4 linked regions of the Homo sapiens genome follow. The protein of the gene in region 1 interacts with the protein of each later gene in a pairwise test. Each region holds a gene or a part of one and is shown in the gene's direction. Other genes may lie near its edges.

Region 1 (3,500 bases):
GAGGCTGAGACAGGAGAATTGCTTGAGTCTGCGAGGCGGAGGTTGCGGTGAGCCAAGATCACGCCACTGTACTCCAGCCTGGGTGACTGCGAGACTCCGTCTCAAAAAACAAAAACAAAAACAAAAAACAACAACAACAAAGGATACATTTAAGAAAAAAAAAAGGATACACTTTTCCCCATTTTTTATATGGCCTTGGGATTTATGCTATCAATTATAGTTTAATCTCCTGAAATTTTTATAGTAGTTATATGTGTGTGTGTGTTTGCCTGTAAGAGAAAGAGAGATGGGGGAGAGATAATGCATATAGAGGATGGTCAGTCATCATAATCACAGTTACTCTTTATGGAATTCCTGTTTTGTACCTGGCCCTAAGTATTCTGCGTACATTATTTTGTTGCATCCTTTCAGCAGATCACATTTATTATAGGTAGTAAATGGCCTGAATGTGATGGAGCTAGGATTGGAATGTAGATTCATCTTATTCTTCATCATCATTATCCTCACCATAATCATCATCAAAACATTTATTCCACACTTACCACATATTAGGCACTGGGCTAATTATACGTATCTACATTATTTTATTTAATTCTTATAACAATCCTATGAGATAGATGTTATTATTAGTCACATTTTTTCTGATGAAGTACCTAAGAGTTAGTTCAATAACTTGGTCAATATGCCACAGCTGTTAGATGGTGGAGCTGAGACCTGTTCTATTCCACTAACTCTGTGTCCCCAAGTTGTATAATTCACATAATGTTCTCTAGGAATGGGACCCTTTGGATCTCCACTAAAAGCATGTTACCTCCCGAGGTTCTGCAATATTGTTGGCCCTGCAGAGGGTGCACTTTTTGTTTTTTTTGAGATGGAGTCTCGCTCTGTTGCCCAGGCTGGAGTGCAGTGGCGCAGTCTCGGCTCACTGCAAGCTCCGCCTCCCAGGTTCACGCCATTCTCCTGCCTCATCCTCCCGAGTAGCTGGGACCACAGGTGCTCGCCACCACACCCGGCTAATTTTTTTGTGTTTTTTAGTAGAGACGGGGTTTCACCGTGTTAGCCAGGATGGTCTCGATCTCCTGACCTTGTGATCTACTTGCCTCAGCCTCCCAAAGTGCTGGGATTACAGGAGTGAGCCACTGCACCCGGCCTGCAGAGGGTATACTTTTAACCACTATGTTCTTTCTACTACCATGCTGCTTCCTTTAGAAGTCAGTAAATTATACAACTTTAGATCTTTATAAGGAAGGGCTAAGTAGCCTGCAGCTGTCATTTCTTAGTTCTTATAATTTGTCAATTATAACAAAGTGAAACGTGCCTTTTTGTTTTCTTTCCAACTACTTTTTAACAAATTTTAGACAAATTTGTTATACATGACAGTTATCTAAGTTCTTGTGCAGGAAAAATAAGACTTTTTGTCCTTTATCAGCATACAATTCTTCTGTTGTACATGATGTAATAGTTTGAAGCTGCCAAAGTCCAGCCCTCAGGAAATTGTTTGAGTTGAGTAACTATTCGCTGGAGAGTTTAAGATAACCAGCTCATAAATCAACAAATAGCTTGGCCCTTTTTATGGTTGTAGATGCTTATCTCTTTCTATTTTCAAGCTTGAATCAGAAGCAAATATTGTTTCCATTTATATAGTCACTATTAGAAAAAGTTGTCAGCAGTATCTCAAGCTAGATAAGGCCATTTTGTGAGTTCTTTTCTTTAAGGAGAGTCAGAATTTATCAGGATGTTAGAATTGGTTGTTCTAGGCTAGGTACCTTCAAACAAAAAGTTTTCTCTTTCAATGAAACTGTCAGTGATTCAATGCCTATTATATTCAACCTCTGTGTGGAATTAGAAAGATGCCCTTAAGACAAAATGTAGTCCACGTACCCAAATAACTGTAACATGAGGGAGAATGTGAGTATTGTAATCCAAACCCCACCATGCACTGAGAGCACAGAGGAGGATGAAATAAATTGGGAGATTGGAAAGGTGAGAGGGTGAGAGAATGATCTGGGAAGGCTTTTCCTTGTAGGATAGTTAAGATTTTCAGCAAGAATAAATGGAGAGGAAAGGCATTCCAGAGAGAGGCAATATTAGAGTCAAGACAATGAGAAAGTAAAGGACAGGGTATATTTGTTATAAAGAAAGGAGTCTAGTGTACTTGGAGTGGAGGATGAGTGAGAGGCACATAATGGATGATCAATGAAATGTTTGATCAGTGAGTGAATGAGTAGATGAAGCTGGAAATGGTGGTAAGGTCCGGTGATTCTCAAACTTTACGCTGGTGCCAGACATATTTAATTCTATCTTATAATTAGGAATTAATTTTTTTTTTCTTTGAGCTGGAGTCTTGCTCTGTCACCAGGCTAGAGTGCAGTGGTGCGATCTTGGCTCACTGCAACCTCTGCCTCCCGGGTTCAAGATTCTCCTGCCTCAGCCTCCTGGGACTACAGGCACGCGCCACCACGCCCAGCTAATTTTTGTATTTTTAGTAGAGACGGGGTTTCACCATGTTGGCCAGGATGATCTTGATCTCTTGACCTCGTGATCTGCCCACCTCAGCCTCCTAAAATGCTGGGATTACAGGTGTGAGCCACTGTGCCTGGCCAGGAATTAATTTTATTGGCAGAATATGTGAATATCAAAAATATGCAGCATAAAAATCACAATCATGAACATGATTCAGTGATATGATTTGGATGTTTGTTCCCTCAAATCTAATGCTGAAATGTGATCCCCAATGTTGGGGCCTAGTGGAAGGTATTAGATCATGGGGGTGGATCCCTCATGAATAGCTCAGTGATGAGTGAGTTCTCACTCAGTTAATTCACACAAGATCTGGTTGTTTAAGAGAGCCTGAGACCTCTCCCTTGTCTCTCTCGCCATGTGACACCTGGGCTTCCCTTTGCGGTCTGTCATGATCGTAAGCTCCCTGAGGCCTTGCCAGAAGCTGAGCAGATGCTGGTGCCATGCTTCCCATACACAGTGCAGAACCATTAGCTGATTAACTTCTTTTCTTTATAAATTACCCAGCCTTGGGTATTTCTTTATAGCAGTGCAAACATGGCTTAACACTGTCAGTTAGGAAAAAAGGTGTTAAAATAGTTCCAATTGACTGCTTTGATTTTTTTCCCTCTTAATTTTGCTACTATTTGTTCAAGTTTCTGTAGTGCTAGCAGTAGACTAAGTAGGTAAGAAAAAATTATGGTAGAGAAACTTATGAAAAATCCATCTATTAATTTTCTTTCCTGTGAATTAGAAAAATACCATTGTTCTTTTCCAGCCAAAAGAATATCTCCCTCTAGGAGCCATTAAATATTTTGAAAAGGAGTGACATGGTGTGGAATGTGTTTTAGGAGTCAGGTGGTAGTGACATGTAGGATTAGAGGACTGGCAATGAGTCAGTAATGTGGTGCAGTGGTCCAGATGTGGTGAGGATCTGAACCTTAGTAGCAGCAGCAGTGAAAATAGAATGAAAGGAAATAGAGATCCACACCAGGCCCTCT
Region 2 (3,500 bases), on another chromosome or scaffold:
ATGCAGCGGCCCCCACACTTCCGGGGGCCCTTCCCGCCCCACCAGCAGCACCCGCAGTTCAACCAGCCTCCGCACCCCCACAACTTCAACCGCTTCCCGCCCCGCTTCATGCAGGACGACTTCCCGCCACGGCACCCCTTCGAGCGGCCGCCCTATCCCCACCGCTTCGACTACCCCCAGGGGGACTTCCCTGCCGGTGAGTGTACGGGCGCCTGGGTAGGGCCTGGCGGAGGCATCCACGGCTCGCCTGCCGAGCAGGCTGGTGGCGCTGCTTGTGGCCCTGCCATGCTCCTGAGTGCACAGTGACAGACACAGGGTCATGGGACGTCCGAGGAGCCCGGCCTGGGTTCTCAGGAAGTGGGGGCACAGACTCAGTTTTGCCGCCCTGATGAGGCCCGGCTGGCTGCAGATGAGGCAGAGCCAGTAGGAAAAGGTTCCTGCCGTGGGTGGGCGTGGCGAGGGCAGGGCGGGGCCTCGTTCTTTTTACTGCTGCTGCTTGTTTTTTGCATCAGTTTTCCCGTTGTATTAGTTCGTTTAAAAAATCAATACTTGGCGTGGTGTCGGGCGCCTATGGTCCTAGCTGCTCAGAAGGCTGAGGTTGCGGTGAGCTGTGATCGCACCACTGTACTCCACCCTGGGCGACAGACCGCTGTCTCAAAAAAAAAAAACAAAAAACTACTTTTCTTTTTTAAAAAAATTTTATTTTATTTTAAATAGAGATGGGGTCTTGCTATGTTGGCCAGGCTACTTTCAAACTCCTGAGCTCAAGCAGTCATCCCACCTCAGCCTCTAGAGTAGCTGGGTCTACAGATGTGAGCCACCATGCCTAGTATCTTTGTTATTGATTTTATTTCTAATCTTTTAGTACTTTTTTTTTTTTTTGAGACAGAGTCTCACCCTGTTGCCCAGGCTGGAGTGCAATGGCACAATCTCAGCTCACTGCAACCTCCGCCTCCCAGATTCAGATGATTCTCCTGCCTCAGCCTCCCGAGTAGCTGGGATTACAGGTGTGCGCCACCATGCCTGGCTAATTTTTTGTGTCTTTAGTAGAGACAGGGTTTCACCATGTTGCCCAGGCTGGTCTCGAACTCCTGACCTCAGGTGATCCGCCCGCCTCGGCCTCCCAAAGTGCCGGGATGAAAGGTGTGAGCCACCTCGCTTGGCCTTTTGTTGTTGTTGTTTGTTGTTTTTTTGAGACTGAGCCTCACTGTCACGCAGGCTGGAGTGCAGTGGCACAGTCTCGGCTCACTGCAGCCTCCTCTTGGGTTCAAGTGATTCTTCCACCTTGGCCTCCTCAGTAGCTGGGATTACAGGCATCAGTCACTATGCCCAGCTAATTTTTGTATTTTTAGTAGATGGGGTTTCGCCATGTTGGCCAGGCTGGTCTCAAACTCTGGGCCTCAAGTGATCTACCCGCCTTGGCCTCCCAAAGTGCTGAGATTACAGGCGTGAGCCACCATGCCCAGCCTTCTCTCTTTAAATACATTTCTGATTATAAATGCAGCTTGAAGACCGCTTGGCACATTTATTGCTTTTACTTTTTGGCTTGGGCTGACATGATAAGTCCCACAGCCTGGACGGCTTCAACAGCTGGAATGTATTGTCTTAAGGATCTGGGGGCTGGAGGTCCAAGGTGGAGGTGTGGCGGGTTCAGGTTAGTGTCTTGGAGGCCTGTCTCCTTGGCTCATAGGTGACCGTCTTCTCTCTACATGTCTGTGTCCTAATCTCTTATTATAACGGCAACAGTCACGTTGGATTCGGGCCACTATGGCTTCATTTTAACTCATTTGTGTCTTTGAAGGCTCTGTCTCCAAATACAGTTCCGTCCTGAGCTACTGGGGGCTGGGACCTCAGCGTATGGATTCGGAGGGTCACAACTTAGCCCTCACCGTGCAGTTTTGGGGTTTTGGGGTTCTCTTCTCTCAGCCTCAAGCTCCCTCGGCTGTGCCTATGGGTGCGGGACAGGCCCCTCGGAGCCTGGCTCCTCGGTGCCTTGCTGCCTGGTCTTAAGCAGTGAGAGAAGATGCTGGACAGGCTCCCAGGAGGGGTTCGTCTCCTGGCCCTTCACTGAGCCCCTCCCCTCCAGCACTTGTCGCCTGGGAGATCCTGACTGGCCTGTGGTCCTGAGGCAAGTCTCTGTTTTGCAGAAATGGGGCCCCCTCACCACCACCCTGGCCACCGCATGCCTCATCCTGGCATCAACGAGCACCCGCCTTGGGCTGGACCCCAGCACCCTGACTTCGGCCCTCCCCCCCATGGCTTCAACGGGCAGCCCCCACACATGCGGCGACAGGGCCCACCCCACATCAACCACGATGACCCCAGCCTGGTCCCCAATGTGCCCTACTTCGATCTCCCTGCTGGGCTGATGGCCCCCCTCGTGAAGGTAATGCCCCACAGTGGGCTCCAAGCTGAGCACGCTTACCATACTGGTCCCCGTTTCTCCTTGTGAAAAGTGAATGCACGGGACCGGGTGCCTTCCGGGGCTCCCCTTCATCTCCCACTCCCTAGGGACCCTGATCCGTCAGTGGGAGGTGCCGAACCGGAGTAGCACGGTGTGGCTGTGAGCGACACCATGTCTGCCCTGCCCTGCCCCTCCTATCCCTCCCACCACAGGGAGCTTCAGCCATGTGGGGCTAGCTAGGCTATGAGGCTCGAGTCCTCTCTTCGTCCTTCTTGGTCCAGGGCCTCAGAAGCACCTTGTCCCAGGGCTGCTGATGGAGGGAATGTCTTAGAAGGAGCCACCTGTGAGCTGTGCCTACCAAGCACACAGGGAGGGGGGTGGCCCTGGAGAAGCCGGGCAGGGCTGGCAGCAGCTGGTACCACTGTGGGATGGCCGGAGCATAGGGCAAGAGGTGAGGCAAGAAGGGGCCAGGTCTGGCCAGGCGTAGTGGCTCACACCTGTAATCCCAGCACTTTGGGAGGCCGAGGCGGGCGGATCACGAGGTCAGGAGATCGAGACCATCCTGGCTAACACGGTGAAACCCCGTCTCTATTAAAAAATACAAAAAATTAGCCAGGCGTGGTGGCAGACGCCTGTAGTCCCAGCTGCTCGGGAGGCTGAGGCAGGAGAATGGCATGAACCCGGGAGGCGGAGCTTGCACTGAGCCGAGATCACGCCACTACACTCCAGCCTGGGCGAGAGCAGGACTCCGTCTCAAAAAAAAAAAGGGGGGGTTGGGGAGGCCAGGGCCGGGGCTTGGGGCCTCCAAGGGCATGCTGGCCACTGCCACTTCCCACCCCCTCAGACACATCCACCTGAAGTCCAGGCAGACTTCACGGAGCCATGGGCAGCAGGGAGAGCTGCGGGCGGGGGCCCAGGCAAGCCAGGCAGGGCAGGGCCTCAACAGGAGGACAGAGACGGAGCAGAAGAAGGATACAGGCCAGGGGGCTCCAGGGCCGGGGCTGAGGCTGTTCTGAGCGGGGGCCCAGGGTAGGCATTGCAAGCAAAGGGTGACGTGAGGGGCCCGCTGCATGTCTGAATAAACCAGAGGGTGTTC
Region 3 (3,500 bases), on another chromosome or scaffold:
GAGCCGAGGTCGCGCCACTGCACTCCAGCCTGGCAACAGAGTGAGACTCCGTTTCAAAAAAACAAACAAAGAAATATCAAAGCAATCACTAATTCATTTATTCTACAATATTGAGTAACCCTCCAAGGGTTACTAGCATTTTATGCTAGATGCTAAGAGGACACAAAGGTGAATGAGACTGTGGAAGGGGCTTACGTTTAATAGTACCAATAATAATACTGACATCTGTTGTGCACGTACTCTGTGCCAGGCACTGTGCTCAGCATTGTATATCCACTGATTCATTTGATCCTCTCAGCAGTATTGTGAGATGGTTGTTACAATTTTCCTCATTTTGCAGGTAAGAAGATGAGGCACAAACAGGTTAAGTAACTTGACAGTGATGAATCTCATAGAGGAGGCAGTGCTTGGACTGGGCATATGCTGAGATAAGATACAAAGATGAATACCTATTATATGAGGGAGAAAGTTACAAAGGCCATAAGAACACAGGTAAAGTGTTTCAGGAATTTAGAATCAGTTAACCACTGAGGAAATGTACTGTGTAAGCAGAATCTTTGGCACATTGCAGATAGTTGAGGTTGTATATCCTTTTTTAATTGTGGAGGTGGTAAGGATTGACACTGCAAAATGTTCTCTCAGTCTCAGACCACGTGACAAATGCCCAGGACTAACACACCTTCTTTACTTCCCAGGCTGTTGTCCCTGGACCGGCAGAGCATCCCCTGCAGTACAACTACACTTTTTGGTACTCCAGGAGAACCCCCGGCCGTCCCACGAGCTCACAGAGCTATGAACAGAATATCAAACAGATTGGCACCTTTGCCTCTGTGAGTTCTTGGTGAATTAATGGAGTGTGCCTTGATAGTTCGTTCATGCCTGTATTGATATGATGTTTATTTACTTTCCTAGTAACCTATTTAAGATTCTGGTTTTCTTAATTGACTGACCTGAGTCTCCGGAGTCAGATTTGTTCATTCTTAGGTTTCTCACTAGATATCCATGGTTAGCATGTAGGTATCAACAAATATGAGAATTGTAGAGTTGATCAGAAGGGCATAATACAAAAGAACAGATTTGGGTTTTTTTATTTTTATTTTTATTTTTTAATTGAGACAGAGTCTCTTGCTCTGTCTCCCAGGCTGGAATGCAGTGGTATCATCTCAGCTCATTGCAACCTCCGCTTCCTGGGTTCAAGCAATTCTTCTGCCTCAGCCTCCCAAGTAGCTGAGATTACAGGCATGTGCCACCACGCCCAGCTAATTTTTGTATTTTTAGTAGAAACGGGGTTCCACCATGTTGGCCAGGCTGGTCTGGAACTCCTGACCTTAGGTAATCCACCCGCCTTGGCCTCCCAAAAGGCTGGATTACAGGAGTGAGCCGCTGCACCTGGCCCTGTTTTTTTTTTTGTTTGTTTTGTTTGCTTGTTTGTTTTTTTTTTTAAGTATATATTTATGGAGTCCTTACTAAGTTCAAAGTGTCATGGATACAGAAGTTTATAATACATGGTGTCTATCTTCATGAAGTTTGACAGTAAAGTGAAAAATTTTGAAAGTTTTGTATTTAAGAACCTCCCATTAGGGTTTTGGCTGTATTAATGATTATGCATAAAATATCTTTTTCCTGTGTTCAGAAAGAAAATGAAATCTCTAATAATTGCTTTTGTGGGTACTGGCAGTCAGAGAGCCCAGACTGTCTCATCTCTCTCCCAGGTGACTTGGTTTGTGTACCCCAAGAATCCATCTGCAACTAACACCACTCTAGTTGAACAAAGGTTATTATGTACCCAGTGTGTGCTGTACATTCAATCTCTGGGCAGAATCAAATGTGGGGTTTGTCATTTTCTTGAAATTGGTGAAGTATTAGTCCTGTTTAAAATGCAGAAACTACGGGGGAGCGGGGAGGGATAGCATTGGGAGATATACCTAATGCTAGATGACGAGTTAGTGGGTGCAGCGCACCAGCATGGCACATGTATACATATGTAACTAACCTGCACAATGTGCACATGTACCCTAAAACTTAAAGTATAAAAAAAAAAAAAAGAATGATTCAGTGTAGTTGTATGCTAGATATATTATATGGAATTATCAGCAGTTTACCAGTTGGTTCTTTATTAGTACTCCTGATGTCTTAAACAAAAATGAATAATTGTTTATCTTTTCTCAAAGTGTCTCATCTGTTCAGTAACAATCACGGTTTTCTCCAACAGTCTTGCATATTACTTTTTTTTAAAGTGCTTTGGTTTGAAAAAAATAAAAAAATAAAATAAAATGCAGAAACTAGAAAAGAATACTCCAGTAGGAAATACTACAACAAACTGCTAAGGAGGAAGGACATATAATACATACTTTATTTGTATAATTTCCTTCCAACATTATGATAGCCCTATGAGGTCAGTGATATTATCCATGTTTTACAAATGAGGAAAGTAAAACTTGGGTTAAGTGTCTGATCTAAAGTCTCAAGTTATGGTGGGGCACGGTGGCTCATGCCTGTAATCCCACCACTTGGGGAGGCTGAGGTGGGAAGATTGTTTGAGCCCAGGAGTTTGAGACCAGCCTAGGCAACGTGATGAGACCCTGCCTCTACAAAAAAAGTTTAAAATTAGCTGGCTTGGAGAAAACGGGAGCATTAAAAAAAAAAAAAAAAAAAGGCTGGCCATGTTGGCATGCACCTGTGGTCCCAACTACTCAGGAGGCTGAGGCAGGAGGATCAGTTGAGCCTAGGAGGTTAAGACTACAGTGAGCCTTTTTTGTGCCACTGCACTCTAGCCTGGGCAACAGAGATAGATCCTGTCTAAAAAAATTTTTAAATTCTCGAGTCAGTCATAATTCACTGGATTAAGTCGAGGAGCCAGTATAATTGAAACTCAGGTACAGAAGCTTCCAGATAGCTGAACACATGGAGGTGCCTGGAGGGTGGTGCGCCTAGAGGGGACATAGAAGCTCCCTGAACCTTCCTCCATACCTTCCCCCATACCTTGCCCTACGCATCTCTTCATCGTATCCTTTGTTTATAATAAACCAGTAATGTAAGGTACCAAGACAATAACCGGGGAAAGAATCGTCTTTTCAACAAACATTGCTGAGACAACTGGATTTCCAGGTGCAGAAGAATGAATTTGCATTCCTTCCTGACACCATACACAAAAAGTAACTAAAAATGGATCATAGACCTAAATGTAAGAGCTAAAATTATAAAATTCTTAGAAGAAAATATTAGTAAATCCTAATGACCTTAGGTTAGGCAAAGCCTTCTTAAGTAACACACTAAACGCACAAGCAGCAAAAGATTAAATACTTGGCTGGGCGTGGTGGCTCACGCCTGTAATCCTTGTACTTTGGGAGGCCAAGGCAGGAGGATGACTTGATCTCAAGAGTTTGAGACCAGCCTGGGCAACATAGTGAGACCCCATCTGTATAGGATTTCATCAAAATTCAAAACTTTTCTGCTTCAAAGGACGCTATCAAGAAAGTGAAAAGATAGCCTACAAAATG
Region 4 (3,500 bases), on another chromosome or scaffold:
TGGAAAATTTGTATCGGTTTTCACTCTCCCCACACACTATCCTCTGGCTTTATCTAGGCTTCTCTGTCTTTATCAAGATGTTAATTTCCACCACTATCTGGGTTTCTGGGTTGGGTTTTTTCCCTGTTGCTTTTTAAAATGACTCTTGTCTTCTGTTACACACTGCTCTGAAGTGATTGTTTCAGTATTTATTGTCTCAATGTCCCTGGGCTGGTGAAAGGAATGGTTTTAGGTGTTCATTTCATATTGTGGTGTTTGTGCTTTTGTTGGGAGCATTACATGAATAGATTGGAAGAAGCAACATGAGAGCTGTTTGCTGCTTAGAGCGAGAGACCTTTCCAAGAATGGGTTGGCCCCCCATACTTGGTGACTAGCTCTTTAAGAATTTGTGTTCCTGACATGAAGCAACTCTCTGTAGTTCCTGGAAAGCCTAAAAAAATTCTCAGGAGCCATTGTCTCCAAAGACCCAACAACGCTTGGGCCCTGCCCAATTTAAGCTTTATGCAGCATTTCCAGTCTGTGCTGCCTCTCTGTATTCAATGAGAATTTCTTCAGAAAGGAGAAGGAGGCAGGAAAGGCAGACTGGAAACTTCTCAAAAGACAGAGGTCCAGAAAGTTTCTCAAGATGCTGAGGAAGGGACGTTTTACAAATACAACAGCCTCTTCAAGAGATTGTTGTTATTGTTATTTTTGTTTTATTTATTTATTTATTTATTTAACTTTTTGAGACGGGGTCTCGCTCTGCCACCCAGACTGGAGTGCAGTGGCGCGATCTTGGCTCACTGCAAGCTCCGCCTCCCGGGTTCACGCCATTCTCCTGCTTCAGCCTCCCAAGTAGCTGGGACTGCAGGTGCCCGCCACCACACCTGGCTAATTTTTTTTTTTTTTGGTATTTTTAGTAGAGACGGGGTTTCACTATGTTGGCCAGGCTGGTCTTGATCTCCTGACCTCGTGATCCGCCGCCTCAGCCTCCCAAAGTGCTGGGATTACAGGGGTGAGCCACCGCACCCAGTTGTTATTTTTGTTTTAAAGTCACACGAGACATAAAAGCTTAAGAAACATTCCTTCCTTCTGTAACTATTATACAGGCACCTACTATGTGCCAAACACTACGCTAAGCTATGGAATACATAGGTTCTTTTCTCCAGGGACTTACCTGCCATCCAGTGAAGAAGTGGAGATGTTTGAGTAAATAATGACATTCACTTTCTAAGAGCTGTTATAAAGATATACACAAGGGGCAGCAGAGGAATTGCTAAATTGCCTGGAGACATCATGGGAGGCTTCCTAGAAGAGGTGACATTCAAATCATGTCTTGAAGGATGAATGTAAGACATGCAAGCATGATATAAGAATTAGGAAGTAAGAGAAATAAAAGAGGGACACAAGTGAATGGGGTGAGGAGAAGGAGGAAGAGGGGAGAGAATAAAAAATGATACATGATTACAAATTTCCTGGAAAAACTAAAAATAACAAATGGTAATATTCATGGGCCCCTCTACACACACAGAACCTCCTTGTCCAAGCAGCCCCCAAGCCTATAAAGAGGCTACTGAAGCCAACTTCTCCAAGATAATTTTCATGGGCAATGAACATTTTCTTCCCCAACCCCAATTAATCTGAAGGGAAGTAGAGAAGAGTTGTTGGTGGCTAGAGGGAGCAAATGTGGGAGTCTAGTTCTTCAAAAATTGGGAGAGGCTAGAGCCAAGCCCCTGATGTCAGTGGAACCCGAATGGTTCTGAGCACCTACAGGCAAACCCACCTGGCTGATTTGAGGACACACTGAGTTCTGAACACTGTTCAGCCTGCTACCTCCTCAAAGGGCAGGTGAGAGACTGAGGCAGCCCTCACACTGGGGAGCAGCTGCGAGAGTGTCTCACACCCACCAGACACAAAGCTTCAGGAATCGGTTTTGTCACCTCCACACAAGTCAGATATGAAGCGTTTGCGGGGTACGTGGCTTGGGTTTTGTTTTTAGTGAGAGGTGATGCACAGGCTGGTAGTTAGGAGCCTGCAAGCCTGCAGGCTGGGCTCGTGTCCAGGCTCCTGCCCCAAGTCCACATGACTTTGGACAAGTCACTTCACCAGTCTGAACCTCAGTTTCTTCATCTGTAAAATGGAGGTGGCTGTACTTCTCACATGGAGCGGTCGTAAGAATTAGATGAAGGAATATATTTAGAGGATTTGGCACAATACCTCACCACAGAAAAGGTTCAATAAATGTGAACCGTTATTGTGTCTGTTCACATCAAATGAAAAAATCTCACATTGCTCCCAGGCCCTTGGGATGATCCACACTGGCTTTCGCCATTGGTGACTCTACTGGTGCCACACAGGGCCCACGGGGAGGAGGGAAGACACTGTGACAGACCTCACTGAGCAGGGGACATCTCCTTCTCCCCCTTGGATTTCCCCTCAAGTAACTGCATTTAGAGAGCTGCTGTGAAGTCAAATACCATAGAGGGGCTAAAGCACTTTGAAAAGTATAATCAGGTGGGGCATGGTGGCTCACGCCTGTAACCCCAATGCTTTGGGAGGCTGAGGTGGCGGGAAGACTGCTTGAGGCCAGGAGTCTGAGACCAGCTTGGGCAACATAGCGAGACCCCGTCTCTACAAAAATAATTTTTTTTAATTAGTCAGATGTGGTGGCCTGCACATCCGTAGTCCCAGCTACTTGGGAGGCTAAGGCGAGAGGATGGCTTGAGCCCAGGAGGTCAAGGCTGCAGTGAGCTATGATCGTACTACTGCATTCCAGCCTGGGTCACAGAGCAAGACCTTGTTTGAAAAAAAGAAAAAGTATAACCCCCAAAGGAATTTGGGCCAACATCACTATCATCCTGACTAGGGGTAGATATTCTAAAAGACTAGTTAGTGTCCCTAAGCTTTCAGTCAGTCTCATTCCACAGCTGGGGAGACTAAATGATGAGGGAATTAAGCTGGGGCCCCACATGATCCCACTAGCAGTGACTTCCTGCTAGTACATTTGACAGGGACTCTCTCAGGTCTATAGTGGCATTGTTGGGCACCACTGAAAACAGAGCCCTAAGGTGGCCTAAGAATCCTCCAAGGTGAATGGGCCGAAATCAAAGGCCCCAGTGACACCATCAGTCCACAGTTAAACAAAGCCCAACACCACCTGCAGTTGGGATTGCAAGTCTTGGCGGGCTAGGGGCCCTAACCATTCCTCCCGATGGAGCAAAATGGAAATGAGCCTAAGACAGGTGGTAAGTTCCCTGCTGCTGGAGGCATATAGCCTGGAGGGCCACTTGGTGTGGGGTTGTAGAGGGGATTCAAACGTTAAGTAGTAGCCTGACTTGAACCTTGAGGATTTTGGATCCAGTTGTCCAAAGGAACAGGAAGGATGGCATGTAAATGATGGCACATCATTTACATCACAAAGGGAGGTGGTAGCCTTCCACTTTCTGTGACCTGTGGGAGTAATTACAGGAACTGAGAAAGAAAGTCATCAAGGTCGGGCACGGTGGCTCACACCTGTAATC

Evidence for each region.
Region 2: the proteins of USP54 (region 1) and CHERP interact in binary tests that used the Homo sapiens proteins (3 or more experiments, as listed by UniProt).
Region 3: the proteins of USP54 (region 1) and EIF4E2 interact in binary tests that used the Homo sapiens proteins (3 or more experiments, as listed by UniProt).
Region 4: the proteins of USP54 (region 1) and HNF1B interact in binary tests that used the Homo sapiens proteins (3 or more experiments, as listed by UniProt).

Annotation. Positions count from the first base shown.
Region 1 is NC_000010.11:73,584,843-73,588,342, reverse strand, and holds part of USP54 (ubiquitin carboxyl-terminal hydrolase 54), read left to right. Parts: intron 1-3,500.
Region 2 is NC_000019.10:16,521,938-16,525,437, reverse strand, and holds part of CHERP (calcium homeostasis endoplasmic reticulum protein), read left to right. Parts: coding exon 1-196; intron 197-2,147; coding exon 2,148-2,386; intron 2,387-3,500. UniProt on the Homo sapiens protein: Involved in calcium homeostasis, growth and proliferation.
Region 3 is NC_000002.12:232,557,189-232,560,688, forward strand, and holds part of EIF4E2 (eukaryotic translation initiation factor 4E type 2), read left to right. Parts: intron 1-695; coding exon 696-830; intron 831-3,500. UniProt on the Homo sapiens protein: Recognizes and binds the 7-methylguanosine-containing mRNA cap during an early step in the initiation. Acts as a repressor of translation initiation.
Region 4 is NC_000017.11:37,735,060-37,738,559, reverse strand, and holds part of HNF1B (hepatocyte nuclear factor 1-beta), read left to right. Parts: intron 1-3,500. UniProt on the Homo sapiens protein: Transcription factor that binds to the inverted palindrome 5'-GTTAATNATTAAC-3'. Binds to the FPC element in the cAMP regulatory unit of the PLAU gene. Transcriptional activity is increased by coactivator PCBD1.